3 separate regions of the Homo sapiens genome follow, and regions 1 and 3 are each linked to region 2. Evidence: fine-mapped expression QTL. A gene starts in region 2. Each other region holds a variant in brackets. All regions are shown on one strand. Distances are from middle to middle.

Region 1 (9,913 bases), 61 kb after region 2:
TCATTTTCTTGATTTGTTTGTACATGCCTCTTAATTGTTTCCATTCCCGCCCTTCTCATCCCACCTCTCATCCCATCTTTGGTCCACCACCGCCATCGGGAACATCCACATACTTGTTAAACACAAACAAAATTATTTTAACCAATGAGAACTTTGATTGATTTTTTGTCTCGTTAGTTTATAATCCAAAACAATGATGAAAACATTTAAAAGGGTCCAAGATCCTGCCATAAGTATTTACTTTTCTCGCGCCACTGGCTACATGAGTGGGTGCACACATAGACCCATGCATGATCACACACACTGATGGCCTGGCCCTGAGATACTGGAGACGAAGCAGCCGGCACCATGTCTGGCACATGAACTCAAACACTTCACTTCCTCTGGTGAACCTTGGCCAGCCCCATCCATGATTCAGTGACGAAATGCCTTCTCACTCTGAACTAAATTCATTTGCACGGTTTCTAGCGTGCTTTGTATTTTTAGTCCTTTTCCACACATGGCCTCTCCCATTGGATGGCACACTCCCTCATCACAGCACTACAGCTCAGCCACATGCCCCGTGAGAGCATGATGAGGCAGCCGGCTGGGGTCTCTGCCTGGCCCGGGGCCTGGATTATCTCTGTATGTGGCCACCATTTGCATGTGAAAATCACGTCTGGCTCACAAGTCTGTGACCCAAACAATAGTCTCTTTCACCCTGAGCATACGGTCTAGGGATGTGAAGGGAAATTTCCCTTGCTTCTCTGAGAATATGTGCCACTTTTCTGAAAAATTAAAAATAATTGGAGTTACGAAGTTGGGTTTTTTTTTTTTTTTTGGCAAGAGTAAGCAATAATGATTAAGAAAAGTGGTTCATCAACTGTTACCCTGCTCTTAGTCCTTTCAAACTTCCTTCTTTTTTTTTTTTTTTTTTTGAGACAGAGTCTCGCTGTGTCACCCAGGCTGGAGTGCAGTGGCGTGATCTTGGCTCACTGCAAGCTCCGCCTCCCAGGTTCATGCCATCCTCCTGTCTCAGCCTCCCGAGTAGCTGGGACTACAGCTACTTTTTTGTATTTTTAGTAGAGACAGGGTTTCACCGTGTTAGCCAGGATGGTCTCGATCTCCTGACCTTGTGATCCACCCGCCTCAGCCTTCCAAAGTGCTGGGATTACAGGCGTGAGCCACCGCGCCCGGCTCAAACTTATTTCTAATAAGCCATCAGAAAATTATGTCAGATGTCTACATCAATTCCTGCATCAGAATCTCACAGTGTCCTTATCAGACATTCTTTACCAAACAGCCTCGCCGAAATTAATACTTTTTGAAACACTGAGTATATTTCTGCTTGTAAGCAGAGAAGAAAGTAAGGTGGAATAATTTATTAAGATGAGAAAAAAGTCCTGGGTCAATTCACATTGCTGTACATTTCTTGAATTTAAGATTTGAAGGTGGTGCGGTGAGCAAGGGAAGTAACACAGTAGCTTCCACCCCGCCACCCACGGTTTCACTTTCCATGGTTTCCATTTCCCGTAGTCAACCACAGTCCGAAAATACTAAATGGAAAATACCAGAAACAAACAGTTCATACGTTTTAAATTGCCCGCCATTCTGAGTAGCATGATGAAATCTTGCACCGTCTCACCCGGGACATGAACCCTGCTTTGTCCAGTGTGGCCACACCGTACACACCGCCTGCCATCAGTCACTTAGTACCTGGCTTGGTTATCAGGTCAACTGTCAAGTAGCAGAGGGCTTGAGCTCGAGGCCAATAATAGCCAAGTGCTATGTCACGATGCCTGCATCATCCGCCTCACTTCTCGTCACGTAGGCGTTTTATCATCTTACATCATCACAAGAAGAAGGGTGCATACAGCATGGTAAGCTATTTTGAGAGAGAGACGTTCACATAACTTTTATTATAGTATATTGTTAGAGTTGTTCTATTTTATTATTAATTATTGTGGTTGATATCTTCTTGTGCCTAATTTATAAATTAAACTTTACCATAGGTATGCATATATAGGAAAAAACGTGGTGTATATAGGGTTAGGTACTATCCTTGGTTTCAGGCATCCCCTGGGGGTCATGGGATGTACCCCTAATGGATAAGGGAGGGGGGATACTGTAATAGCTAATGTTTATTGAGCATTCTGTTTGTGCCAGGTGCTATACTAAGCATTATACATCTCACTATATCCTATCTATGGAGTCCCTGTGTGTTATTGTCCCCATGATAAAGATGAGATAACTGATGTTCAGAGAGGTTAGATTGCCCAGCAGTTATCCAGCTGGTAAGCAATGGAGCCAGAATTTGAGCCCTGGCTTCTGACCTCAGGGTCCATGTCCTTAACCATCAAGCTCACATTGTTTCCAGCTGCTGGGGCCGCCTGCTCTTCACTGACTGAATTAGAAAACAAGCAGGACACATAAGTCCCATGTAGGGCATGGCATTGAAAATGCAGTTTGCGAAGCTGCTGACTAGTGAAGTGAAAGGGGACGGTAGTTAAAGTATTTTGCACTGGGAGACTTGAAGCCAGCATTCTCTCTACCACTGTCTGTGGGACCCTAGGCCAGCACCCCAATATCTGTGGGTCTTCAGTTTCCCCATAATAAAACTTGATTTTAAAATTCATCATCTGGCCGGGCATGGTGACTCATGCCTGCAGTCCCAGCACTTTGGGAGGCCAAGGTGGGTGGGTCACCTGAGGTCAGGAGTTCGAGACCAGCCTGGCCAACATGGTAAAACCCTGTCTCTACTAAAAATACAAAAATTAGCTGGGTGTGGTGTCACGCGCCTGTAACCCCAGCTAGTCCAGAGCTCAAGGCCAATAATAGCCAAGTGCTATGTCACGATGCCTGCGTCATCCGCCCCACATTGTCTCGTCACATAGGCATTTTATCATCTTACAGCATCACAAGATTCTCCTGGTGAGGCAGGAGAATCGCTTGAACCTGGGAGGTGGAGGTTGCAGTGAGCCAAGGTCACACCACTGCACTCCAGCCTGGATGAGACAGTGAGACTCCATCTCAAAAAATATATAAATAAATAAATAAATACATAAATTTCATTATCTCTTAGAAGTCAGTGGGCTGCCCAGCCAGGGGCAGAACTTAGTGCGACACTTGCCCAACTCCTCGTATTTGTCTTGTACTTCCCAGCATGGGAGATGTGTCCTAAATGAAGAAGCACAAGAACATGCTATTGAGAAGAGTCCCTCAATTGCGGCCATCCTTTGGTGTTTCTGAAAGTAACAAAACAAGGCATCAGATATAGCAGAAAGAAGCACTGGTGGTAGCTGAGAGAGTTTGATAGGCAGCTACAGAAAATCCCCATACCTTGGATGTTGATGGCACGCGGTGCTGAGTAGGAAATGCAGAGGTCATTGTTTTTCAGGCTGTAAAAACCTCAAGCACAGGAATCCCATATTATTGCCGTTTTATCCTGGCATCTTGGAAAGTACCGGGCACATGGTTGGCTCTCGGTTGCACTTTGCTGAGTGACTGACTGGGAAACACACCAGAGTGGATCAGCATCCAGTGAGGCAGATGGATGGACACAGTCCTAGGAAACGTAATCTGCGCAGCTTGTGAAAGTGTGATGAGAGTTGCAGGAGAATGGAGTTGATGGAACAGATTGTCAGAGCACTGTCTCCAAAGAAGAGGAGTGGCAGGGTGGACGGAGCGCCTGGCTGCACACACACCTGTTCCGCCTCCCTTTCTTTCTTCCTCCCATCCTCCCACCCTATAGGTAGTCATCAAAGCCTACGGGGTGCCAGGAGGTAGGCTTTGGGATACAGCGGAGAATAGGATAGCGATGGTCCCTGCCCTCATGAAACAGGGAATCCATGTCAGCAATATATGCTTTTCTGATTAATGCTATCAGAACACATGCTTCTTGTTAGCCGTGTGGCTGTGGGCAAGTCACCGAAACCCTTTGAGTTTGTCCATCTGTCTAATGGAAAGAAATACCCTCCTGGAAGAGTGTTTTTTAAAGGATTAGAAATAATATGTCCAAAGTAGTTATTTTTTCTTTGAGTTTGGGGGGAGGGGTGGTTCCTTCTCTCTCTCCCCCTGCCAACTGTTTTCTAGAAAATCAGCACTTACTGGATATTGTAGAGAATAATTTTGGGGTTTTATTATTTTGAAGACGGTTTCTTCTGTTAAACTTCTTCCTGCATCCTCTTGAACTGGCAGAAATAAAAATGCTAGACTTTTAAAGATATGACACTCTAGAATCCTGATTGCTAAAAATGAAAAGCATTCTAAAGTAAATAAAATAACAAATTCAAACAGTAAATCTGTAATGACCGAATGAGCACCATTTTAAACTCACACGTACCAGAGGTGATCGTGGTATGAGGAATGAGCATGGTACATTCTGAAGCTCCTGAAGTAATCAAGGGACTTCTGTTATGGCCTAAAGCAAACAAACAGCCACCATACAAACCTATATACATTTCTATTTCTTTTCCCTCAAATTTCTACTTGAAGCAAAAGGAAAGTCACTTCTTGCTTTCTCTGCCCCAGTAACTGTGGGTGGCAGCCAGTTTTTGGAGCAGTTCTGGAGCAATTACTCTGCAATCCCAAATTCCTAGTGTATGAACAAATCTGCTCAGACATTATCAGGGAAGAAATACTGGAACCTGGATTTTAGTCCTGGCTCTGCCACTTTCTCAATCCTTGACCTTGGGGAAATCACCTAAGCGTCAGTTTCCTCCTCTAGAAAATAGAGAATAATAATATCTGCCTCACAGATTATTTAGAGATTAAATGATGTAATAAAACGTATTTCCTCAATTCCAAGTCACCATCAATTTTAATTCACACCAAATTTTCAGGTGGAAAAAAGCCTTACATTAAGTCCTCATGTTGCTTGTAAGACATCCAAATTTCAGAAAATCAAAATGTTTTTAAAAAGTTATACTCAAAATGAGCAACTACTATAAATACGATTGCCTTGGCAAAGGAAGATTCTAAATAAACGTAAGACAGTCTTGTTATCGTGGTCATCCTCCCTGGGCGGAGGATCTGCAATCTGTGCCTGGGTTTCCCTGTCGCCACCACTCTGCTAAGCAGCCGGAAGCAG[G/A]GCTGCCCCTTCAGCATTTCTCTTGAGACCTACCGCACCCCCTCACAATCCCAGATCAGATGCCAAAGCCAGTGGGGACTGGACAACATGATGAGCCCAAACCAATCCACGCTGAGCTTGGCATCTGATTTGGGATTCTCCACCTTGCAGAGAATCGGAAAGTATCTCCACAATTTCTTTTGGACCGAGCTGTTCTTCCCTTTCCATGAGTTTCTTTTACACCTGACCTAGAGCCTCTCAACCATTTTTATGTCACTGCACAGCCAGAAAATGATAATATTTGTACAGCACTCCAGGGAAAAGGGAGGAACAGTTGGGCCAAGAGGCCAATGACTTCACCATCTGGAACCCATTCAGGGCATTCCAGCGTGGCCCACCTTCTCCAATTAGCCTCCTCAATGAAAAAGAAAGAGGGGGAGGAAGAGGAAGAGAAAAGAAGAAGAAAACCCTGGTAATGTTCACTGTTTTTTGCTTTAGAATTATAAGGGCACTTTAGTTTTTCGAAGCGTCTTTATGATAATGGTCTGGTATAGTGATCAAAATACCCTTGGGCTTGAAGTGCCATAAACAAACAAGTTGTGATACTTGCGTGTGTATCAGAATCCCTGAGGAAACTTGGTGTGTGTGTGTGAGCGCGTTTCCTAATAGCCTGAGGCCCGGGAATCTGGATTGTAAGAAGTGCTCCAGGTAGTTTTTTATCATGATTTTTAAGTCAGCTCTGGGAACTACTGTCTTCGAGGCCCTTGGAAGGTTTCTCCTGGCACTCTACCTTTCATGTTCTGCATTGCTCATTCTATTTTCCCCTGTAAAGGTAGCCTTTTTGATGCAGTAGTCCAAACCTCGTCTTGCGGTGCCCTTGTATATGTGCTCAGTCCTACCCCCTAGTGTACAAGAATCGCACTGCAAGGAGTAGATAATCAGCTGACCTGTGGGACCAGAAGCTCAGCCTCTCAGGCTTGCAATGTTCTCTGAGAACAGTGTGTCTCAGCGTTTGGTTTGGAGATTTCCTGTATCGGAATTATCTAGAAACTCATTAGAAAAACAGTCTGATCCATACTCTCAAATTTTGGACTAGTAATCTACATTTTAGGTAAGCATACTGGAAATTCTTATGTACATTCAGATTTGGAAACTACTACGTATATGGGATTTACTAATCCTATTGATCTGTAAAGGGTTAATTTGACTCACACATTGTTACCTGTCTTTGACAGGCCCCTTACTGCGAAATAACCATCCATGTACACAATGGACCCCTTGGAGTAACCAGCCTTGCTTCCAATATGACTGTTGGGGTAGTAACCAGGAGAAGGTGCTTAGGCCCTAAATTCTGTCACTGAAGCCAATGGTATGATTAAAGCTCAATGTGAAGACTTGAATACAACACATCCCACCCTCATTTTAGTTTCATCTGGCAATTGAGGTGTTTTTGCTTTGGCCATTATGGGTCTCCCAATCAGAGTGGAGCTTCTAGAATAAGTATTTTTAACATAGAGTCCTTGAGCCCCTGAAGTTGCATGCAAAATTGTATGTAAATAAGTGTATTTTTCTAGGACAGGGTTCAGAACTACTGCCAGATTCTCAAAGGCATTCTTGACCTGAAGGGGGAAAGATTAAGGATTAGAACAGAGGTACTTTTCAGGGTTAGAACAGTGAAGAATTATAAACAAAGGCTCATGTCCAGGTAAGGATTTCTGAGCCTCTGCAGACCAAGCCTGACCAATTGTCCAGCATTCCCCAAAATCCACCTGCTCTCCCTCCTCTTTTCTTTGTGCCTCATCCTTTCTTCCTTTATGCTTTTCTCTCTCTGTTTTTTCTCCCCAATCCTTTTGTCTCTCTTTTTCCCCTCTGCCCCCACTTTGCCATCTCCCCATCCCTCCTCACCTTCCATTTCTTCTCTTTCTCTCCCTTCCTGGCCTGAATAGGAAGCAAAGCATGTTCTTTGACTTGTTCTACCTGTTGAATATTTTCAATATTCCACTTATTTTATGTTGGTGGTTCTTGTTTGTAAAATTATGTGAGTTGCACATTTAATATTTCTCTGGCTAGATGAGAAACTAATGCTTTAGGCATCCTTGTTCCTTGATTGTTTGGATCCAGCCCTTGTTAGAAGGCTTTCTGTGGGCAGTGGTCCCCATCACCCCTGGCCAGCAGCAGGCATGCCTTAGGCCTCCCTCTTGTTCTGAGATTGATTCTGATGAAGAAAAACTGACTGACCAGAATCCCAGACCCCTGGCTCTGAGCCCCTACCCTGATCCCAAAACCCAGCTGTCTCTACTGGATTATTCTCATTTGCTGGCTTTGGCTTGGGGATCAGAGAAAGGAGCCATGGGCTGAAGAGGCCGTGGGACCTGGTCAAGTTTGCAGAAGGAAGTGCGAGCGAGCGCTGCCCAGCTTCGACCCCCGAGTCTGCTCCCACTCTGTGACTCTGTGAGCAGGAGGGATGGGCTGGCCCGACTCCCTGGCTGGGCGTTCCGGGTATGGATGCCTGCCACATGCAGTCACCAGCTGGGGAGGGCCCTTCCACACTTCTGAGCCTCGCCCGCCTCAGCCCTGAGCAGCTGGGAGTTCCGAGGAAGCGATGGGTGACCGCTGAGGGGTGGGCCGACACATCCTGCCTGTGCCCCCCCGCTGCTGGTTTGTGTTCCTCTCACTGCACGTGGCAGGTGTCCCCTGGCTGTGGGGAATTTGCAGATTACTCTCCATGTGACTGTAGAAGCGTCCCTGAAGGCACTTCTGGCTTCACCATTTTGGGGGTACCTCCTGGGGTAGGAGGCAGGATGGTGGGTCTGTATAAAGCACAAAGTGGGATATGTGCCCTCAAGTCACTCACATTTGGGTGGGGAGCAAGGCAGCCAGCTACAGACCCAGAGAACAAGGCAGGAAGTCCTGGGCTGACAGTGGGCATGCAGAGAGTGGGCTCTGTGGTGCGAGCAGCCTGTGAGTGCTGGCCGAGGGTTGGGGGTGGGAGTGAACCCAGAGGTGGAGCTGGCAGGAGAGTGCCGCCTCCTGAGGCTGGCAGGAGATGATGCCCCAAATTGCAAATTTGAAAGTTAAATAATATACAAAGGACCCACGTGGGCCCCCCACCCCACTCTTCTCCCCACTACCCTCACTCCAGGGCCCAGACAAGGCCAGTGCTAGAGCTTCCAGGCCTGCTCGCAATCCAACTTACATGTCCCTCTTGCCTGGATCTTCATGCTCCCTGGGGACTGAGGCATGCACCTTCATCTTCAGGGACGTGTTTTGAAGAAATATTGAGGCCTCTGCCACAGGGTTGACCTAACCCCAACACATAGGTGCCCACACCCCAGGCCAGCACTAGGCAATGGGGCAGCCTCTAGACATCTCCCTGGGGATTGCATTTGCCTTTAAATCTCTGGGCCCCATAGCGAGTTGGCAAGTGGCTGTCCTTGTTGGCCTAATGTGAAAGATTGCATCACATATACTACAGTTGTCAGAGACATGGCTTTGGAGTCAGACCTCCAGGTTCAAGCTCCAGCTCAGCTATAATTTGCTGCATAGAATTGGTCAAGGTAGTTAACCTCTCTGACCTGCTCTCTTTGTTTCTGAAAAGCAGGTAATAACGCCTGCCTCGCTAGGTTGCCAAAGCATAAAATAAGATAATGTTTATAAGAGGCCTAGTGTCATGCCTGGCACAAAGTAGGTGCTCAATAAATAATCATTGTCATTATCATTGCTTGTCCTGGAAGAGTAGGTCCCTGGAGGCCCTGGGTTATACTCTAAGGCAGTGCTTCAGGATCTGGGGATCTTGTTAAAATGAAGGTTCCAATGCCGCAGGTTGGGGACCATACTTTGCATAGCAAGGTAGTTTCCTGGGGCACCTCAATCACGTTCAGTCAGGAGCAGCAGCATCCTTTCTCCTCCTCTTGCTCTCCCCTCGTGCTCTCTGGGTTGATCAGTCATCAAAACACTTCCCAGGCTGTCCAGGCAGGATGTAGGGCAGGATGTATGGTCACTGGACTCATCCAGCACCCCAGTGACTGCAGCCACCTGCGGATGAGGAGGGGATCCGGAGGGAGGAGGGAACTTGTCTCTGACCTTGAGGATTCCTAATCTGACGGGGAGATGGTACAAACACACCTCACTCTCCATAAGCGCCTGCAGAAAAGGCACACAACGGCTTGCAAAGGAACACACAGAGGCACAGGAAGGGGCCACTTCTGGTTTTCTCCTCTCAGAGCTAGAAGGCTGAGAGCAGAGTGCCCCTGCCAGCCCCACAAAGGGAAGCGGAGTGCAGCCTGAAGCTGCAAGGTCAGGTGATATGGCAGTAGCCCAGGGCAGCCCGGGTTAAAGGCACACTCACTCAAGGCCGGCTCTCATTTAGTGGCACCGCAGGTTAAATGCTGCTCCCAGGCCTTGGGTCCCAGTGACCAGGAAAGTTTTGAAAATGAGAACATGTGTTGACCCTAGGACTAGGACAACAGCGCCCTTGATTTTGCGGAAGTCTTCCCTGGAAGTTGGGCGTGCTTGATATTGAGACGCTGCACTTTGTGTTTCTTGACGGCTTTGCTGCAAATTCTCACACACCTTGCCCTTGAGTAAAACCCCAAGGATTCCAGACGTCGGCAAACTCCCGAGCACAACGGTCCTTTCCACCTAAACCCCTGAGCACACAGTGATTTCTGCCTACATTGGTGACTGGTGGTCAGATGGCTTGCTGGGCAGCTTCCCCGCCCTGCTTCTCGTGGAGGAAGGGCCTCCCTGTGGTGGGAAGAGGTGTTCCCTGTGGCAACAAACAGAGACCTTGTCTCTACAAAAAATGTACAAACTTAGCTGGGCATGGTGGCGTCAGCCTGTAGTCCCAGCTAGTCGGGAGGCTGA
Region 2 (9,913 bases):
GTCAGGAATTCAGACAGAGCCCAGCAAGCACAGCTTGTCTTTGCTCTACAATGCCTGGAGCCTCCGCGGGCGGCTGGAATCATCTGCAGGCTTGTTTCACTCACATGTCCAGTGGTTGACACTGGCTATTGGCTGGAACACCAACATGTGGCCTCTCCATGTGGCTTCCTCACAACATGGTGGCTGAATCCCAAGGGTAAGTGCACTGACAGTGAGGAAGCCAGGCTCCGTATTGCCTTTAGGACCTAGCCCACAAAGTCATGTAGTGTCATTTCTGCCATTTCTCCTGTTGGCTGGGGCACTTAAAAAGGTCCACTCAGGCTCAGTGGGAGGTAACATAGACCCTAACTCCTTTTGAAGGAATCCCAACATCATATTGTAGGAAGAGCATATGGGAAATACAATCTACCCCACATTGTTTGTTTTTTAATTTTCTTATTCATCTCCCACCCCACCCCTTCCAGATTCCAAAGTAACGTATGCTTGTTGCAAGAAAAAATAAATAAATAAAAATCCAGAATTGACTGGTTTGGCGGCTCATGCCTATAATCCCAGCACTTTGGGAGGCTGAGGCAGGAGAATTGCCTGAGACCAGCCTGGGCAACAGAGACCCTGTCTCTACCAGAACAACAACAACAAAAATTCAGAATTTATACACCAAAGTCTATACTCACTATCTCAATCCCTCCCTGGAGATAACCACTATTAACAGATTGATGTGTATTTTTTTTTCTTTTCTTTCTTTCTTTCTTTTTTTGTTTTTTGAGATGGAGTTTTGTTCTTGTTGCCCAGGCTGGAGTGCAATGGTGCAATCTCGGCTCACCGCAACCTCCGCCTCCCTGGTTCAAGCGATTCTCCTGCCTCAGCCTCCAGAGTAGCTGGAATTACAGGCATGTGCCACCATGCCCGGCTAATGTTTTTGTATTTTTAGTAAAGACGGAGTTTTTCCATGTTGGTCAGGCTGGTCTTGAACTCCCGACCTCAGGTAATCCAACCGCCTCAGCCTCCCAAAGTGCTGGGATTACAGACATGAGCCACCGCGCCCGGCCATATTTTTCTATACAAACCACATATATGTGTGTGTGTGTGTGTGTGTGTGTGTGTGTGTGTGTGTGTGTGTGTACACTGCTTTTTAAAACAACACTATACATTATTCTTCGACTTGCTGTGTTTATTCATTATTATGTGATGAACAGAGTTCCATGATAGCATGTATAGAAACATTTAATTCTTTGCTTCTTTTTTTTTTTTTTTGAGATGGAGTCTCACTCTGCCACCCAGGCTGGAGTGCAGTGGCACCATCTCAGCCCACTGCAACTTCCGCCTCCCAGGTTCAAGCAATTCTTGTGCCTCAGCCTCCCAAGTAGCTGGGGTTACAGGCACACGCCATGATACCTAGCTAATTTGTTTTGTATTTTTATTAGAAATGAGGTTTTTAGGACGAGGCAGGTGGATCACCTGAAGTCAGGAGTTCGAGACGAGCCTGGCCAACACGATGAAACCCTGTCTCTACTAAAAATACAAAAATTAGCCAGGTGTGGTGGCTGGCGCTTGTAATCCCAGCTACTCGGGAGGCTGAGGCAGGAGAATCACTTGAACCTGGCAGGCAGAGGTTGTGGTGAGCCAAGATCATGCCACTGTACTCCAGCCTGGCAACAGAGTGAGATTCCGTCTCAAAAAAAAAAAAAAAAAAAAAAAGGAAATGGGGTTTTTATTTTTTGTATTTTTATGAGAAATGTTGGCCAGGCAGCTGGGCACAGTGGCTCATGCCTGTAATCCCAGCACTTTGGGAGGTTGAGGGGGCGGATCACGAAGTCAGGAGTTCGAGACCAGCCTGGCCAACATGGTGAAACCCCGTCTCTACTAAAAATACAAAAATTAGCTGGACATGGTGGCAGGCGCCTGTAATCCCAGCTATTCGGGAGGCTGAAGCAGGAGAATCGTTGGAACCCAGGAGGCAGAGGTTGCAGTGAGCCGAGATCATGCCATTGCACTCCATCCAGAGCGACAGGGCGAGGCTCTGTCTCAAAAAAAAAAAAAAAAAAAAAACAAATGTTAGCCAGGCTGGTCTCAAACTCCTGACCTCAGGTGATCCGCCGGCCTCAGCCTCTCAAAGTGCTAGGATTATAGGCGTGAGCCACTGCACCCAGCCCAGAAACACCTAATTATTTCTAATGCCAGCTGTCATAGTATGGCTGTACCGTTTATCTAAGCAGTCTTCTGTTGATGGACATTTAGGTTGTTCTCATTGTTTAAAGTATTACAAAGTAATGATGCAACAAACATGCTTTTCCTAGTTCATGTAGGGCAGTATCTTCAAAATGGCAATGTTTAAAGGATATGCAGGATACTATCTCTCTCTCTCTCTTTTTTTTTTTTTTTTTTGACAGAGTCTTACTCTGTCGCCCAGGCTGGAGTGCAGTGGCATGATCTCAGCTCACTGCAACCTCTACCTCCCAGGTTCAAGCAATTCTCCTGTTTCAGCCTCCCGAATCACAGGTGCCTACCATCACACCTGGCTAAATTTGGTATTTTTAGTAGAGACAGTTTTTCACCATGTTGGCCAGGCTGGTCTCGAACTCCTGACCTCAGATGATCCACCTGCCTCAGCCTCCCAAAACTCTGGGATTACAGGTGCAAGCCACCTCGCCCAGCCAGGATACTATTTTTCAACATGAGGTTTTTTGTTTTTGTTTTTGTTTTTTTGTTTTTTTAAGGTTAGTGTTATTGTTATAAGAAAAATCTACATTAAGCAGGATATATATATATTTTTCTTTGCAAAGGGCAGGTTTCTGTAGCCTTAACATGAAGAAAATAAACAACTATATTTGTTTCTGGGTTTAGAAGATGCTTATAAGCTTTGAAGGGAACTTCTCATTTATTTAGAAAATGACGAGTGACAGGAAGTAGGTGGTTATAAAGCGAGAGGTGGATTCCCCATTCTAAAGTTTTTAACTCAGGCTGATATGGAATTGAATGCAGATTCTTCAAAATTCATGTTGACACTTAGAGGGAGACTCATCGGAAGGTGACAGCAAACAGGAAACCAGCTTGAGGCAAAAAAAAAAAAAAAAGAGCAGTGTCATGTATGACCCACCAAAAGTGAATAAGAAAAATGACTCTGCTGATCATTCTGATGAATCTGTGGAAATACAGTCAGCCCTTCATATCTGTGGATTTGACCAAGGCAGGTCAAAAATATTTGGTTAAAAAAAAAAGCATGGTTGCAGCTGTACTGAGCATGTACAAAGTTTTCTTCTTGTCATTATTCCCTAAACAATACAGTATAACAACAATTTACATAGTTTTTTTTTTTTGTTTGATTGTTTGTTTGTTTTTTTTTTAAGACAGGATCTCACTCTGTCACTCAGGCTTTAATGTAGTGGTATGATCATGGCTCACTAGAGCCTCAACCTCCTGGGCTCAGGCAATCCTCCCACCTCAGCCTCCCAAGTAGGTGGGACTACAGGCATGCACCACCATGCCCAGCTAATTTTTAAAATTTCTTTTGTGGGGAAAAGAATAGGCTCTCACCGTGTTGCCCAAGCTGGTCTTGAATTCCTGGGCTCACGTGATCCTCTCACCTTGGCCTGGAGATTTGGAATTTTTGTAATTCCAAAGTGCTGGAATTACAGGTGTGAGCTACTGTGCCTGGCCTTGAATTAGGTATTATACGTAATCTGGAGATGACTTAAAGTATGTGGGAGGATGTGTGTAGGTTAAATGCAAATACTACATCACTTTATATCAGGGACTTAAGCATCTACGCATTTTGGTATTGGTCAGGGGGCCTGGAACTAATTTCCTGCAGATGCCAAGCGGTGACTGCATAATGGATTCCAGTAACGTGACTGTGTCAGCCTGTCCGCCCATTCATCCTTTGTTCACAGATGGTTAATCTGTAACTTTTGGGGGGTCTTTTTTTCTGGCAGAGATGGGTTATTAAAAATTTCTTTGCTGGGAATGAAATTCTGACACATGCTACAACATGGATGAACCTTGAGGACATTATGCTGAGTGAAGTAAGCCAGACACAAAAGGACAAGTATTGTATGATTCTACTTACATGAAATACACAAAATAGGTAAATCCATAGAGACGGGAAGTAGATGAGGGGAGTTACCTCTGAGGGTAGACGAAACGGGGAGTTAGTACTTAGTGGGTACAGAGTGTCTATTGGGGACGATGAAAGTTTTGGAAATAGCGATGATGGTTGGACAATATTGTGTGTGATTAATACCACTGAACTGTACAGTTAAAATGGTAAAAATGGCAAATATGATGTTCTATATCTTCACACGCGTCTTTGCTGGAGCAGAAGCGAGAGGTTAGGTTCTGTCAGTGTTCCCATGGCTTAGCCTTCCCTTTTGTTTTTAGAAGAACAACCTCTATTTTTAGGGATTTTCACACAAAGGCTTGTGGGCGTGGGAAGTTCTCCCAGCTGCCCTCCTGTTTCTCAGAAGCCCACATGGAAGCCTCTCAAATTATTTAAGGTTTAGGAAATATGCCAGATTGGGAATGGAGATAATTTAATCTCTCTGTATGTTAATTTAGGGTTCTTTTTTTCTGCAACATGAGGCCCTGGAAACCTTACTTCACCCCTAGGAAAGGCAGTTCTGGGTCTTGGTGAAGGGGGTAAGGGTAATTCACCCCTACACAGCATGCCCAGAGCGCTTTCCTGGCAAAAGCAGTTCCACGCCCTCAGAGTCTGGGGTCACCTGATCACGCAGCCAGGCACACACGGAGACCCCCGGTACCGGGGTCTCGGTCAGCTTGTCCAGATTCTTCTCCACATCTGCCCAGGGGGCTGCGGGTTTCCCTGCACTCCGGGCTTATCCCGGGCTTTCTCAGTCCTGCGTGCAGTGCTCACAGCCACTCCTCAGAGCCGCACAGGGTAGGCTCCTGTCCCTAGTCCCCTGGTCCCGGGGCTGGGCATTTCCGCTGGTTGCACTGTCGAGGGGGGAGAGGCAGTGGCTGGTCACTTCGAGCCTGTGGGCTTGCGGCCCCTACTCCCTGTTTTCCCCCAGCCCTGCCCCTACCCAGGTGAATGTTCTTGTCCAGGTAGGCGCGAAGGCCCGACCCTTGCGGAGGGAAAGCCTCTGCAGCGCCTCCTCGCCACCTGGGCCCGAGACTCCCGGTGCTGGCGTGGCAGGGGTGCCCCCGCCGGGACGGGACAGCTGGGACCCGCGCAGCCGAGCCGGGGCAGCCACGTGGCGGCGGGGCGGGGACCGGGCGGGCCGGGCGCTGGGAGCTGGCTGTCCCAGGAGCAGGTGAGGGCGGAAGGGCTGTGGGGGGTGGAGAGGGTGGTCTCGGGACAGTTCCTCTCCCCGGCCCGCAGTTAGGAGCCAGGCCTGGGGTCACCTTTGCCCCCACCTCCCCGCCCAGGTGGATCCTCTCCTACCGCCGGTCACCCGCGCGCCGGCACACGGGCCTGGCCCCAGTACTTGGGGTGCGGGTCCGCGTCTGCGTGGGGTGCCAAGGGGCCCGGGTCCCAGCGTGGCCCAAACGTGAGGGTAGGGGCTCCGCGGAGGAGCCAGGTGAATGTGGGCGGAGGCCTGCGGGGCGGCCTGCGGAGGCCGCGGGGCGGCGGGAAGGGCGAGCGGAGGCCTGGGGTCCCTTGCTCTGTGCGGCGCGGGCAGCCGGGGACACCCGGGTGCTCTGGCTCCCTACCTGTCACCCGGCTTTTGGCAGGACTGCAGCCCACCAAGTCCCCCAGCCTTCCCAGCTTCCCACTGGGCTAACCCTCCTCTCCCAACCCCCCACTCAGTGCTCCGGGCGCCTTCCCTCCTCGCCAGCGCTGGCTGCTGTCCTTAGTCGCCTTCTTCCCAGGAAGATCAGCTCTAACCCTCCCCCTCGCTCTCTTCCTCCCCCTTCCTCCTTCTACCAAAGGGTCCTGAGCCCCGTCTACCTTGCAGCACTGTGCTGGGGAGAGGCGCCACACAGATCAAGGGGACAAACTCCCTCCTCCCCTCAAGGAAAGCCAGGTCCAGCGCGAAGGGGAGGGTGCCTGGGGGTGGGTTGAGGAGCTGCCCTAGTCCTGTCCAGCCTTTTCTCACTCACCCTCTTCAATCTCCTACCCTTCTCCGGCCCTGCTCCAGAAGGGCCCCAAAACAGCCTCCTCATGGCCCCTCTCCCCTCTGCTCAGGGCGCAGCTACATTCACTCACCACCTGCAGCCAGGTCTAGTGCGTCATGATGCCCTCCTCCTGGAGAGAGGGGTTCACGAGGCACTTGAGGGTGGGAGAGGAGTGTGACTCTGTGTCCTCAAGGGCTGGGCAGCAGGGCAGCTGGCTCTGACCCTCACGTATTTAAGGAGCTCAGGGAAGGAGAGAGCTGGGAGTGCCTGAGGTTCTAGGGCAGCAAGGTTTGAGCACAGGTGGGCACTGAAGGACCAGCGGGATCTACCTGGGTACCAAAAAGGTAACCCGGCCAAGTTTCCAGATGAGGTAGACAAGGTTTCTTCCTCAGCCAGGGCCTCGCCTGGTAGTTTGAACAATTCTAGTAGAGAGAAAGGATGGACAACAAGGGGAGAGGAGAGGAGAAGCCAGCCTGACCAAGGATGCTGTTACCTTCCAGAGCAGTCTCCCTGTCCAGATCACCAGGATCCCTGCTTGCTGGAGAATGACCCAGATGTCCCAGGTGCAGGAGCTCTTCCATGAGGCAGCCCAGCAGGTAGGCTCAGGATGTGCCAGGGTCTGTGATGGAGGCCTGTGAGCACGGGGATCCCCAGACAGTGGGCTGGATGCAAACATTACAGCGCACCCTTTAGATGTAATTAACTCCAAAGTCTATTTTGGTCATCCAGTTCAATGAGAAAATATTATAGCCAAAATATTATAGCCATTATTAACTGTTCATATACAGAAAACCTTTGGCATTATTTGTGGTGGATTTTGAATCCTGGGATCCCCCACAACTCCAAACTCCATCCTGAGAGGTCTTCCACAGACAGTCACAGTGAGGACTCAGATAATATGAACTCATTTTAATTCTGAATCAAACCAATGTAAGAAGGTAAATTTATTTCTGAAAAAACTCTTATGTTCTGAAGCCAAAAGGATTTCTGAATGCCCTGGTGTTTGCTATTTTTTTTTCTTCTTTTTTCTTTATCTTCTCCCTGCTGATCATTAGTTACATGCATTCTGTAGATATGGAATTGAAGTGGCTCTACCCAGAAATGGAGAGCTGATCCCTTAAGAAATAATAATAATAATAAACCATACTAAAGTGTTTATCCAGAAACTATGTGCACCCAGGGTCTTTGCCATCCATGATCACTCAACATGAAGTTTTCACCATCCCTTGGGTTTCTTTCCTGCTTCTAGAGAGTGGCAGGAGGGTTTCCCAGCCTTGTAACAGGGGGACAAGCCCCATCAGAGGGGAGAGAATCAACAATGAACAAGAAACCCAGACAGAAAATGTGAGGCCCAGGAATTCCCAAAGGAGAGACAAATAAGACATTCTGAGATCTCCCCTGTGATGGCATCTGTTCCTCTCTCCCCTGTTTAAAACCTTCAGTGTCTCCTCATGTGCACCACTCAGGGCTCAAACTCTTCAGCCTCAGCCCTATACAGTCTGACCCCACCTGAGTCTCAAGTCGAGTTCCCCACATCTTCTTCTTCCTGCCACACCTTCCAGCTGAACCACACCATTCCCCAGAGCTTATATCTTTCCCTTGATCTTTGCTGATGCTTCTTATCAACAATTTGTCACTGAAACCTTCACCCAAGTATTTAAGTGGTATTTAAGTATTTAAATTGGTATTTAAGTGGACAGTAAATTTTAGTTGATTGATCACATGAACAAACAACAGAAAACCACAATGCAAGTTAAATTGTCATAAGTGCCCTAAGAGAGAGTTGATTTCTAAAATGTGATGGATACAATGACCTCTGTGTTGCCTCCTTCTCCCTTAATAGCTAAACATCGAAGGATTGGACATGGCCCAATGCCCAATTTTAAGGCCTTTGGTGTTCATGATTTAGAAATCCATCCTTTCTTTCTCTCTCCCTCCCCTGCACTGTCTTGTTAAGGTACCATTTCTTGATTGGATGATTCATACTCTCCTAAGTTCTTTTTCCACATTGCTACTAAAGTGATGCTTTTATGAAGCATAGATCTGTGCATTTGACCCCTCTGCTTAAATTCCTTCAATAGCTTCTCACTGCCTTCAGAATTCAGCTCAGACTCCTCATCTTGGCCGCCAGGGCCCTCCGTGATGGTTAACTCACCCCTTCTGTTCCACAGCATCCTGTGTCACTGCACTTACCATGTAGCATTGAAATGAGCTGCTTCTTTTCTGTCTCCCTTAAAGCTGTGAACTTAAATTCAGGGGCATGTCTTATTTATTTTTGTATCCCCAATACCTGGCATGGTGTGTTGTGTATAGAAGTTGCCCCATCAGTGTTGGTTCTACTGAACTGAACTTACCTGGCTAGGAATTGGGTGAGTTGCCATTTGCATTAAGTCTTAAAGTAATGGTGGAAGTGGAACATATGGTGGACTTGGGAAGCATATTCCAGGTGGGAGGGTGAGAAAATGATAATAGCTACCAATTAGTGGGCACTTACTGTATACTGAGCACTTAATATGCATTACCTCATTTATCTCCACTACAACATTCTGAAGTTGATATGATTATTTTGGTTTGACACAAGAATAACTGTAGCACTGTAAAGCCAGGCATGTTTGATGCCAAGTCCCAAGCTTTCATCCTTTTTGCTATGTGCCTCCTGCTCCAAATGGTATAAGCAAAGCCACCCAGATGGCAAATTAAGGACCTCTGCGTGGGAACAGAGAGTAAGTTAGGTGGCTAAAATGCTGGAAGCTGAACTCTAGGAGTGGCTAGCCCTCAAGAAATTTCCTGGGAACCTTTGAACAATTTTATTCCAGTCTTGGGGATCAGAAATTCTGCTAGGAGCTTTGGGGCCTGCAGAACACAAGATTAGGAGGCAGTGCCCAGTGGGAAGACAGGCTAGTGGGTGTCATGCCACCTTCAGTCTTGACCTGCTCTTCTCTTGGTCACGGTGATTAGAAAGTGGCTCACAGGAAGTTTGGCAAGGGTGGGGACACTTGGAAGTTAGGTGGAGGGTGAATGAATGGACTCTTGGTTTGGCTTTAATCATTTTAGGACCAGATAGGGTAGCTCTCTCTCTCTCTCTCTCTCTCTCTCTCTCTCTGTGTGTGTGTGTGTGTGTGTGTGTGTGTGTGTGTGTGTGTGTGTAGATTGGTCAGTAATAAGTGAACCAGCTGGGAAGGAGCTGTAGATCTGAGTGTTAATGGTGTGGTGGTCGAGGGTGCATGTGCTGCCTGGGTCAAGTCCTGGCTCTAATACTTTGTGACCTTGAACAAGTTTCGTAACCTCACTAAGCCTCCGTTTCCTCACCTACAAAATGACTGCCCAGTGATTGAAACTACCATAGAGAATGAAGACAATTAAAAGAGATAATTTGTGTAAATATTTGGTATAGTGCTTGGTTCCTGGTCAGCATTCAGCTTATATTATATAAATGGCTAATAATTAAACTAAGGGGAGTATGTATTTAATCCAGGGGGTAGTGGTATAAATGAGCAGAAGGATCCATTGGCAAATCAATGCATGACTCAGCACAGCTGAGTCAGGCAGAAGACATAAGGCAGGAGTCTCAAACCCAAAATCATACCTTGGGCCAACACCAGAATGTGGGACATTGTTCCAGACAACCTGCTGGGTGGGCAGTCTATTGAGGATGATGTGTGCTTTCTAGGCCTGGGTGAGTCTGGAGTGGTTTGGGAATGTGAGTGTGTGTTTGGAGACCCACCGAACTTCTGGCAGGCCAAGCCTTGTTCCAGGGGCCTCTGTCTGGAGGCACTTTGTGTGCTCTGGTGGTAGACTCAAACCTGGGTTCTGGGTTTCCCATTCTGACTGTGCTGCT
Region 3 (9,913 bases), 92 kb after region 2:
AAGTCACATGGTAACAGTGTGCAGACCAGACAGATCATCGTTGTGATGCAGGGAGAAAAAATGTTTTTGGGTAAAGCAATTAACTGCTTCCTGGAATTGGCGTTTAAAACCCAGAAATGCCATCAATCCAGCACTGTCTAGAGATTAGGAGCTGGTGATGCAAGTGCCTGTGGCGAAACCAATGCATCGCGCCGATTATAACTGATAAGCTCAGCCTTCTTGTGGGTATGTAACCCCACATTAATCATGCAATTACTATTTCAGAAGGGGAAATCTACAAAGAGCAGGGGTGTTAGGAAGAAATGGAGAGGCTATGTGATGTAGTGGAAACAACACTGACTTGGAATCAGGAAACTTGAGGGTTAGTGCTGGTTCTGTTAGCAATTAGCTTGGAACACTTGAATCAAATGGCTTCCCTTCTTTGGGCCTCCGTTGCCTCATCTGTGAAATAAAAGGTTGGAGTAGATGATCGCTAGGGTATCACCTAGATTTAAGAATCATGATTCTAAATAACTGTTTTATTTTTTATTTTTATTGTTTTTGAGACGGAGTCTTGCTCTGTCACCCAGGCTGAAGTGCAGTGGCGTGATCTTGGCTCATTGCAACCTACGCCTCCCAGATTCAAGCGATTTTCCTGCCTCAGCCTCCCAAGTAGCTGGGACTACAGGTGCGTGCCACCATGCCTGGCTAATTTTTTGTATTTTTAGTAGACGCGGGGTTTCACAATGTTGGTCAGGCTGGTCTCCAACTCCTGACCTCAGGTGATCCACCCACCTTAGCCTCCCAAAGTGCTGGGATTACAGGCATGAGCCACTCCATCCAGTCCTAAATAGCCAAATTTAAACAATTTTTGGAAGCCCGCCAAGAAAAGTGTCGAGACCAAATAGTAATTATAAAATGGGCACTGAGTGTTTCCCAAACTGTGCTCTGTGGAACTTTAATAATGAAGAAAGTTTTCATTTCTTTAAAAAAAAAAAAAAGGGTTCAATGCCAAATAAGTTTTGCGAAACTGTGTGCTGTATTTCTCTTCTTAGAGATGGACAATGAATATTAGCATATTATAGGCACTACAATAGCCCAGCACCGAAAACCTCTCTAATTAAGGTTTTCCCAACCTTATTTTCAATTGTGGAACTTTTTAAAAAATGTAATATTTGTAAAACACCTGGGCACTAATGCTCTGGGAAATAGTATTTGTTCTATTACGCCAACCCTAAATGTAACTCTAACCTTAATGATAGTGTTTTAAAATTGCACTGGATGCAAAAAGAAAGCAAACTAGAGAATTTCTGTGACACTTAACACAGACAGGAAAAAAATACTAAGTCAAAATAATTTTTCTAGCTCTAACTAGTGAATGAGACATTTATAATTCACCGAAGCTAGGGAACATTGCCCAAGAATTGTGTGGTAACACAGAGGTAGAATTTTGGAAATGACAGCCACAGTGTGTGAGCCCCTATAACAAATGTGCAGGCCAGGCACGGTGGCTCATGCCTGTAATCCCAGCACTTTGGAGGCCGAGGCAGTCAGATCACCTGATGTTAGGAGTTCGAGACCAGCCTGGCCAACATGGTGAAACCCCATCTCTACTAAAAATACAAAAATTAGCCAGACATGGTGGAAGGTGCCTATAATCCCAACTACTTGGGAGGCTGAGGCAGGAGAATCACTTGAACCCAGGAGGCGGAGGTTGCAGTGAGCCAAGATCACACTATTGCACTCCAGCTTGGGCGACAGAGGGAAACTCCATCTCAAAAAAAAAATCCAAACAAACAAACAAACACAAACAAATGTACACTTTGCTGTGGGAACCACCCACATTGCCCCAGCAGGAATCACCCGTGAGACTTCTTGTCTGCAGTCCGAGTTGCCTGCATCTCCTTGTTTCTGGCTCTTTGTGTCTGTGATATAATCTACTTTCTGGCTTCTCTGTTTTGTCTCAAAAGCCAAGTTTCTGGCCATATCTGGGCCTGGCTCATTCCTGTGTCACGGTCAGTCCTTTCTCCTCCCACTGAGCAGCATCCTAATGTACTGCACAACAGGCAGCCTACACAGAACCTGGGGGAGGAGTAAAGGGGGTTTGTTATGGAGACAGTAAGTGTTTGGAAGCAGGAAGCAATTAGGATGAATCAGTCATTTTCCTCCACAGAAGCATATATTGCTGTGGTGTTCTCAGGGGTCTTCATGGGTTAACTTCTGTATAAAAGATCTGAAGGAAGGTGTACAAAATGACCTGACAAACTGTAGGAGGTACAACAATGGCGAGGAATAAAGAGCACTATGTCATGATATGGTTTGGCTCTGTGTCCCCACTCAAATCTCACCTTGAATTGTAACAATTCCTATGTGTCGTGGGAGGAACCTGGTGGGAGGGAATTGAATCATGAGGGTGAGTCTCTTTCCCGTGCTGTTCCCATGGCAGTGAATAAGTCTCACGAGATCTGATGGTTTTATAAATAGGAGTTCCCCTACACAAGCTCTCTCTCGCCTGCTGCCATGCAAGACGTGACTTTGCTTCTCCTTCCCCTTCTGCCATGATTTGTGATGCCTCCTCAGCCATGTGGAACTGTGAGTCAATTAAAGCTGCCTTAGCCTCCTGAGTAGCTGGGATGTGTGTACCACCATGCCCGGATAACTTTTTTATTTTATGAAGAGATGCTGTGTGGTCCAAGCTGGTCTCAAACTTGTGGCCTGAAGGGATCCTTCTTTTTTTTTTTTTTTTTTTTCCTGAGATGGATCTCTGTCACCCAGGCTGGAGTGAGTGGCATGATATCCGCTCACTGCAACTTCTACCTCCTGGGCTCAAGTGATCCTCCCACCACAGCCTCCCAAGTAGCTGGGATTATAGGTGTGCACCACCACACCTGGCTACTTTTTGCATTTTTAGTAGAGATGGAGTTTCACCATGTTAGTCAGGCTGGTCTCGAACTCCTGACCTCAGATGATCTGCCTGCCTCGGCCTCCCAAAATGCTGGGATTAAAGGTGTGAGCCATTACACCCAGCCTCAAGTGATCCTTCTGCCTTGGCCTCCCAAAGCGCTGGGATTACAGGCATGAACCACCACACCTGGCCCTTAAATCTGTTGCATTTTTAATTTTAATGATCATATTTTTAATTTCCAAAAGTTCTTTGTTGTTCTTGGATTTTTTTTCATAGCACCTTGTTTTATAGATAGAATATTCTTCTTGGATGTACCTGGAGCTACTAATTAGTGTTTTCTTCCAAATTCTCTCTGTATCCTGATTTATGTTTCTTCCAGCCTGGGTTGTTCTGTTTCTATTTATGCGTGTATTTGTTTATTTGTTGCTGGTTTTCATCACACATTGGGTGATCTTGGTTGTGGGCATGGATTTCCCCAGCTGTCGCATGGTTAGGTCTGTCTCCCTGCTGGGGCCCTACCTTGATGAGAAGTTTGTGAGTGCTGTTGATTCTTGAGCAGGGCTTTATTTGGGGTGCAAACGTCCAGCCCTGGTTTTCCTCAGTGTATTGAGATCTTGTAGAGAAGCATTCCGAGGCTTTCTTTCCTTCTCTTTTCCTCGGTATTATATTCTCCATTTTCTATGTTCTATGTTCCAGACATTCATGGGAACCTTTCATCTACTTAGGGTCCTCCTCCCAACTTCTCTTTGCTTATGGGAATTTATCTACTTTTCCCCTTTACTATGCTCTTAATAGGATCTTGGAGAGGAGGGAATGAGAGGAAAGAAAATGTGCCTAACAGGCCGTTAAAAACAAAAACAAAAACAACAACAACAAAACCTTAAAAGTTTTCACGTTTCAAAATGATCATTGTAGAAAATTGAGAAAATATAAACAGTCAAATAAAAATGACCTGTTCTTTTATCACCCAGAAATAACATTGTTAATGTTTTAAAACATGTTCCAGTTCCTTTTTCTATATATTTTTATAATAATGGGATCATACCATGTGTTCTGTTTTCTAATATGCGTCTTAAAACTAAGCAAAAGCTTCTAAACATCTTTCCATGTCACAACATATCCCTTACAATATTCTGAGACCTAGTATTTATTGAAAGCTATATCATCACTTATTTAACCAACCCTCTATTTTTAGACATTAGGTTGTTTCTAATTTCCACTATTCTAAACAAGCGTTTATAAACACGCTGGGCTAAATCTTCCCTCATAGCCTTGACTACCTACGATGGGTAAAGTCCTCATAGTGGAGTTGCTGGGTGACAGTATATGCACCCCATCCGCGGGCCAGCATTCAGGGTTCTCTCTGAAATACACCCCCCTACTTTCACTTTCTGGTTCCAAACTGTCACTTCACTGCACTTCGCTTGGATTCTGTGAAGCATTGTAGCAGAGGCATTAAGAGCATAATTTTCAGAGTCAGACAGACCAGGGTTGAATCTTAGCTTTGCTGCTTATTAAATGTGTGACCTTAGGCTGTTTTAATTAACCTCTTTGAACACTTTTCCATAAGATGAGGAAATAATTCTACCTTTCTGATGAGGTTGTTATGAGAATTAAACAGGATAAAAAAATGCATGTAAAGCACTTGACACAGGCCCAGGCAGTTTGAAAGTGTTCACAAATCATGGAGTTAGATTCATTCCCATCCCTAAGCCCATTCAAATCCCTCTTTCAAGGCCACATTCAAGATACAACCCCCTCCACGGGTCTTTCCTGACCAGGGCAGCCCATCACACTGAGTTGTTATGGCACTTGTGGGCTGGATCCTCATCCGATGTTCAGAACACCCTGTCTTGTTGCTTTCATATATTTGTTTGTATGGGAAGAGGCAACATCCCCACTTCACCATGCAGCACTGTGCTGTGGGTCCCTCATGGATTAATTCATTTTCATTAGTGTTCTTGCAGAAGAGAGGTGATGATGAAAAGGAGCTTGTGACTCCATGTCAGTGGCATCAGGATTGGTTTTTTTGGAGTTTATTTCAAGCCCTTTGGTAGCTCAGGGGCTTGGAGGATGGTACCTGACCCCGAGGACACAGGAAGCTCCCATGGAATCAGCAGGCAGCAGAGGCAGGGAAAGCTGCTGAGCAGGAGGCTGCCAGACCTTTGTAATGCTGAGCCTCTCCAGGGCATTGTCCCAGCTCAGCAGGCAGCGCAGGACCTCTGTGTGCCTTGCAAGCCGCTTTCCTCCCCCCTGGTTGCTTTGCGCTGAGCGGTAGGATGCTTTTGGAGCTGGGAGGGCTTTCCTCCTGAGCCTCCTCCAACCCACAAAGGTGCCTTTCACGCCACAGGGATGCCTCCCTAGTTGCCAGGGGAGATTGAAAAGCAGCCTATGCGCAGAGCTGCAGCTGGAGGGCTTGCGGTGGGACAGCTTCCAGGAGAGGGTCCCGCAGGAGAGGAAGGGGCAGCCCTGGGGAAGGCGATGCGTGGAGGAGGCTGCTCACCCCATTCCCCATCTGGGTGTCTTTCAGGAGTCATGGCCGGCTTCAACATGGGGGGCGACCTCAGGGAGCCTGCCGCCAGCATTCCCCTGGGCTCCCTGGCAGCTGTTGGCATCTCGTAAGTTCCCCTCATGGCAATCAGTCTGAGCTAGAGAGTGGGAGAGAAAACCCCAGGCAGAAGAGGGATTGCCCCTTTTGTTCTGAGAGTGCCCCGACTGTGACCAATCTATTTCATATTCCGATCCTTCTTTTAACACTCGGTGGGCTGGAAAATTCACGTCTGGTGGGTTCAGACACTGCCCTTTCATGCGCCCTGCCTGGGAATGCTGCCGAGGAGGAGTGTCGGGACCCAGATCACAGATCGAATCCTTTCTTTCCTTTCCTCGGCCTCCCGCCCCCGTCCCTCCCCCACCCCCATTTTGAACTTGGGGATTTTTTTAACCACCGAGTTTCCAGGATCACTGGAGGGAGCATAAAGATGAAGAGTTTTGCAATCAGACGAATTGGGGCTGCATCTCAGCTCTGCCGCTGATTGGCTGCATGACTCTGGACAATTTACTGAGTTCTCTGAGCCTCCATTTCCTTTCTTGTGAAATGGGGATAATGACACTGTATGTGCTTC[C/A]TAGATTGCGGCGGGGAGAGAAGGCACACAGTGGAAGCTCAGCACCCAGCTCTTCTTCTTCCCCCAGTGAGCCTCCCCTCCAGCTCCCCCAGGCCGTCAGGCCTCTGGGGTTTTAGTTCACACTGTGCCACCCACACAAGCAGGCTGGGTAACCTTGGGTCTATTTCTGACCTTTTAGAATATTGTTTCTCTCTGTACCACAGGAAGAAGCTTCTCTGCCCTTCATTGGGTAGGTGTGAAGAGGCAAAGAGATCAGAGACCAGAAACAATGACTTGAGAAGTTAAAAGGGCCTGTGTTATTCTAACCACAGTATTTAGAAAATATTAATGTATCTGTTTCACAAACACTGAATTTGTTCTTAGCTTACTGCAGTGAAACCATTGCTATCAGCCTGGCGTACAGCATCAGGGTATTTTGTGCAATAACATTGGGAAGAAAATGAAGACAACAGAGATAGAGTTGAGTGTTGGGAAGGAAATAAAAGAAAGAGGCTTCTGAATGAGGACCCTGTCTTGTTTCTGGCCCCAGCTGGGAGGTTCCAGGAGGAACCCTTGGCCCATCCTCTGATTACCCAGATGGGAATGAGGAGACCACAGGAACCTGGGTCTTGTTCAAGGTTACAGGGCATCTTGGGGACAGAGCCAGGCCTCTGCTCTCTGCCTTTTGACTTTAGTTTCCCTCTTTATTATCTGATCCAAAGATAACAGACCAGCAGGACTTAGAGGCCCGAAGGATCATCAGCTTGTTCTTTTGCTGGAGGAGGCTGGGGTGTGAGGCTGCGGGGCAACCCTGGCCTGAATCCTGGCAACCTAGAGGCAACTGGGCCTCCCACTTCCCTACTCGGAATGCCCTTTGTATGTTTTTCTTTTTTAATATAAGAAAGAGAAAAAAAACTGCTCACTTCAGCAGTACATACACTAAAATTAAAACAATACAGAGATTAGCATGGCCCATGTGCAAGGATGACATGCAAATTCGTGAAGTGTTCCATATTTTTATATATATTTAAAAGTAAAAAAAGAAACAAAACAATGGTACCCCTTTTTTGGTAAGAAATATGCCAGAAGAGAAATAGTACAAAAAGTGTCCTCCCAAGCCAGCTGGGGAAGCTTCATGACTGGCCTTTCTCTCATTCTGATACAAGTTCCCTTTGGAAACAGAAGGTTGAGTGAGGGAATTGGATGGGGCTGGGTGAGGTGAGTCGGGGGCAGCTCTGTTCTGCTCTTGGGTTTTGCAGGTGGTTTCTGTACATCATCTTCGTCTTCCTCCTGGGCGCCATCTGCACTCGAGAGGCCCTTCGCTATGACTTCCTGATAGCGGAAAAGGTGAGTGAGGCCTGCGCTACTCCAAGGGCTCAGTCTGCCGGAGTCATTTATTTGTTCTCACCAACAAATGGCCACCTTCCCCTTGCAGTACTGTCTGGGAATCCATATAGTCTTTTTAAAATTTAATTAATTTATTTTTTGAGACAGGGTCTCACTCTGTTGCCTAGGCTGGAGTGCAGTGTTGCAATCTCAGCCCACTGTAGCCTCAACCTTCCAGGCTCAAGCAATTCTCCTGTCTCAGACCGCCAGGTAGCTGGGACTACAGGGGCATGCCCTCATGCTGGGCTAATTTTTTTTTTAATTTTTTGGTAGAGATGAGGTCTCACCATGTTGCCCAGGCTGGTCTTAAACTCCTGGCCTCAAGTGATCCTCCCACCTTGACCTCCCAAAGTGCTGAGATTACAGGCGTGAGCCACCACGCCCAGCCTTCATATAGTCTCTAGCCCAGGACTGAAGTGTTGGGTTGTGGTGGGGAAGAGACATGATGGAAAAGGTACAGGCCCTGCTTAGGGATTTCTAGAAACAGATAATGATGCCCAGAGGGATTCACAAATATGAGGGGCTAGATAATGGGGACATCTCTTCCTGTCAAAAATCAGGACAGAAACAGAAGAATCTGCTCACCCCAAATTCCCAGTTAAGCAAGTGCCTCACTTTTGCTAATAGCTTCACCTTCCACAATGAATCAAATGTGCTGCTCAGAAGTGGCAAGTGGAGAAGGAGGCTGGACAGGCAGACGTGGAGGGAGCGGGCGGAAGCCCAGTGCCAGGGTGAGGGCCGAGGCCCTCCTTGTCCCTCAGGTCCTTGACCCCTTTGGCTTTCCTGAGAGTCTCAGACATTCTGGGTTGATTTGGCTGCAACATCTTTGTTTCTAGAGTCTGCACCCTGCCAGGAGAAGATTAATGAATTCCTGGCATTGGCTGGAGGTCATCTGACATCAAGGACATTTATTTGGCATCCTAGAAGCCACATGAATAAGATTTCCAGATATTTTTCTGGAAATCCCCAAAAACTCCCACCCTCCTTTAAGTTCTTGGAGAAAAAGTAGACCCTGAGATTCCCATCATTTTTCAGAGAAATGTAGTTGGTTAGGGAGTTTTTCTGTGAACTCCTGAGTATCACTGCTTATATTTTATGTATTTTAAATTTTAATATTTTAATTTTAACTTTTTAAAGACAGGGTCTCACTCTGTCACCCAGGCTAGAGTACAGTGACGTGAACATGGCTCATTACAGCCTCAACTTCCAGGGCTCAGGTGATTCTCCCACCTCAGCCTCCCAAGTAGCCAGGACTACAGACATGCACCACCACACCCAGCTATTTTTTTTTTTTTTTCAATTTTTTGTAGAGACGGGGTTTCGCCATGTTGCTCAGGCTGGTCTCAAACTCCTGGCTTTGAGTGATCCTCCCACCTCAGCCTTCCAAAGTGCTGGGATTACAGGCATGAGCCCCTATATTTTAGGATAGACTACCATTTTCTCTTGGTGTGAGGCTTTGCAAAGCAGCCCTGCTGGTCTTAATGGAGGGCCAGTGCCTGGGGCAACCTGGGGCAGGAAACTCTGAATTTTCTTTTGAGAGATATGTTTGAGCTTGGTTTTCACATTAGCACAGGTTTCTTTTTAAGGCTTGTAGGCACCCATGCAAAGGTGATTATTTGTTTTCAAGGGTCTTGCCCTTAGTATAAAAGCAGATTTTTTGGAAGGCAGTACAGTTCAGTTAGTGAGAGAACTGATACCCACTTTCCAGTACCCAAGGTCACAGACCCCCAGGTGGCAAGGTTTGCTCTCAGGGCAGGAATCTATAGCCCTCATTTGTATCTACATGCATGCTTCCGTCTGAAGTTTCACTCCCAAGGGCCTGTTCTCTAGTTGTGGAATGAAAAGCTTGGCTGCATTACAGGAATTGAAGGCCTCAGGGAGCAGACTGGGTGAGGCTGGTTTGACCGAGGGAAATGCTTCCTGCTCATCTGCAGCTTGCCAGTGGCTGACCAGCTCTGCCTGCTTCTAAAGTTCCTTTCTCATGCTTTCCTTCACAGAGGTCCTTCCACCCTTTAGGGACTCTGATCTGATTATCCCCTGGGCCGCAGCTCTCCTCCCTCCTCTCCTTCCCCTGTTTTTCAAGGGAATGATCAGAGTAGGTATATGGGAGGGCAGGCAGCTTTGTATCTAAGGAAGGCCACAAACAGCAGTAGGGTAAAAACAGCCCAGAGACAGCACATGAGAGCCTTTGTGGGTGGAAATCCCACACCTAATGATAGGCACACAAACCGGGGGAGCCTCCTGTGGAATGCCACCTGTCCCGACAATGAGCAGGTAGGCAAGCACTTAGCCAGCTGGGGGCACCTGCTTCATCAGGCCCAGCAATGACACTTGGGAATGTAATTATGCACACACTGGGATGAAATGTGGAGATTTAGTTTTCGGAGAGGACAAGAGACCATTCCCTGGAAGAGACCATTGTAAAGCCTATAAAGGAACAAAGCTACTGCTCTTGGTTCTCAGTAGAAATGGGCAGGTGCAGCAAGTCAGTAAGCAGTGATGGAACCGACCCTGATGACTTCAAAATAGCAGCACCTGGGTC

Direction of the effects. Alleles are on the strand shown, and positions count from the first base shown. SD is a standard deviation of normalised expression in the study named. Not every link is listed here.
With allele A in place of C in region 3, the expression in monocytes of the gene that starts at base 5,222 in region 2 is lower (moderate effect, 0.47 SD a copy in Quach 2016).

What was found.
Region 1: its variant is fine-mapped to the expression of SLC12A8 in tibial artery (GTEx, PIP 0.92).
Region 3: its variant is fine-mapped to the expression of SLC12A8 in monocytes (Quach 2016, PIP 0.95).

Annotation. Positions count from the first base shown.
Region 1 is chr3:125,146,755-125,156,667 of GRCh38, reverse strand. The region is part of intron 5 of SLC12A8 (solute carrier family 12 member 8); the gene reads left to right. MIR5092 (microRNA 5092) reads left to right here and starts at 5,116; the gene lies at 5,116-5,203. RefSeq lists a silencer at 1,739-1,788 and enhancers at 2,024-2,525, 7,348-7,417, 7,438-7,627, 7,738-7,827, 8,958-9,017 and 1 more. The variant G/A (reference allele first, on the strand shown) is at 5,069.
Region 2 is chr3:125,208,057-125,217,969 of GRCh38, reverse strand. SLC12A8 (solute carrier family 12 member 8) reads left to right here and starts at 5,222. Exons shown (of 14, transcript NM_024628.6): 1 at 5,222-5,270; 2 at 6,576-6,671. The coding sequence starts at 6,621. RefSeq lists silencers at 5,141-5,290, 5,331-5,550, 5,561-5,610 and an enhancer at 5,502-6,101.
Region 3 is chr3:125,116,188-125,126,100 of GRCh38, reverse strand. SLC12A8 (solute carrier family 12 member 8) reads left to right here. Exons shown (of 14, transcript NM_024628.6): 7 at 5,415-5,502; 8 at 7,245-7,332. It also overlaps the pseudogene RNU6-230P. Among named protein-coding and RNA genes, the nearest start is that of MIR5092, 30 kb to the left of the region's middle. RefSeq lists enhancers at 4,161-4,380, 4,586-5,091, 5,092-5,598, 5,601-5,650. The variant C/A (reference allele first, on the strand shown) is at 6,007.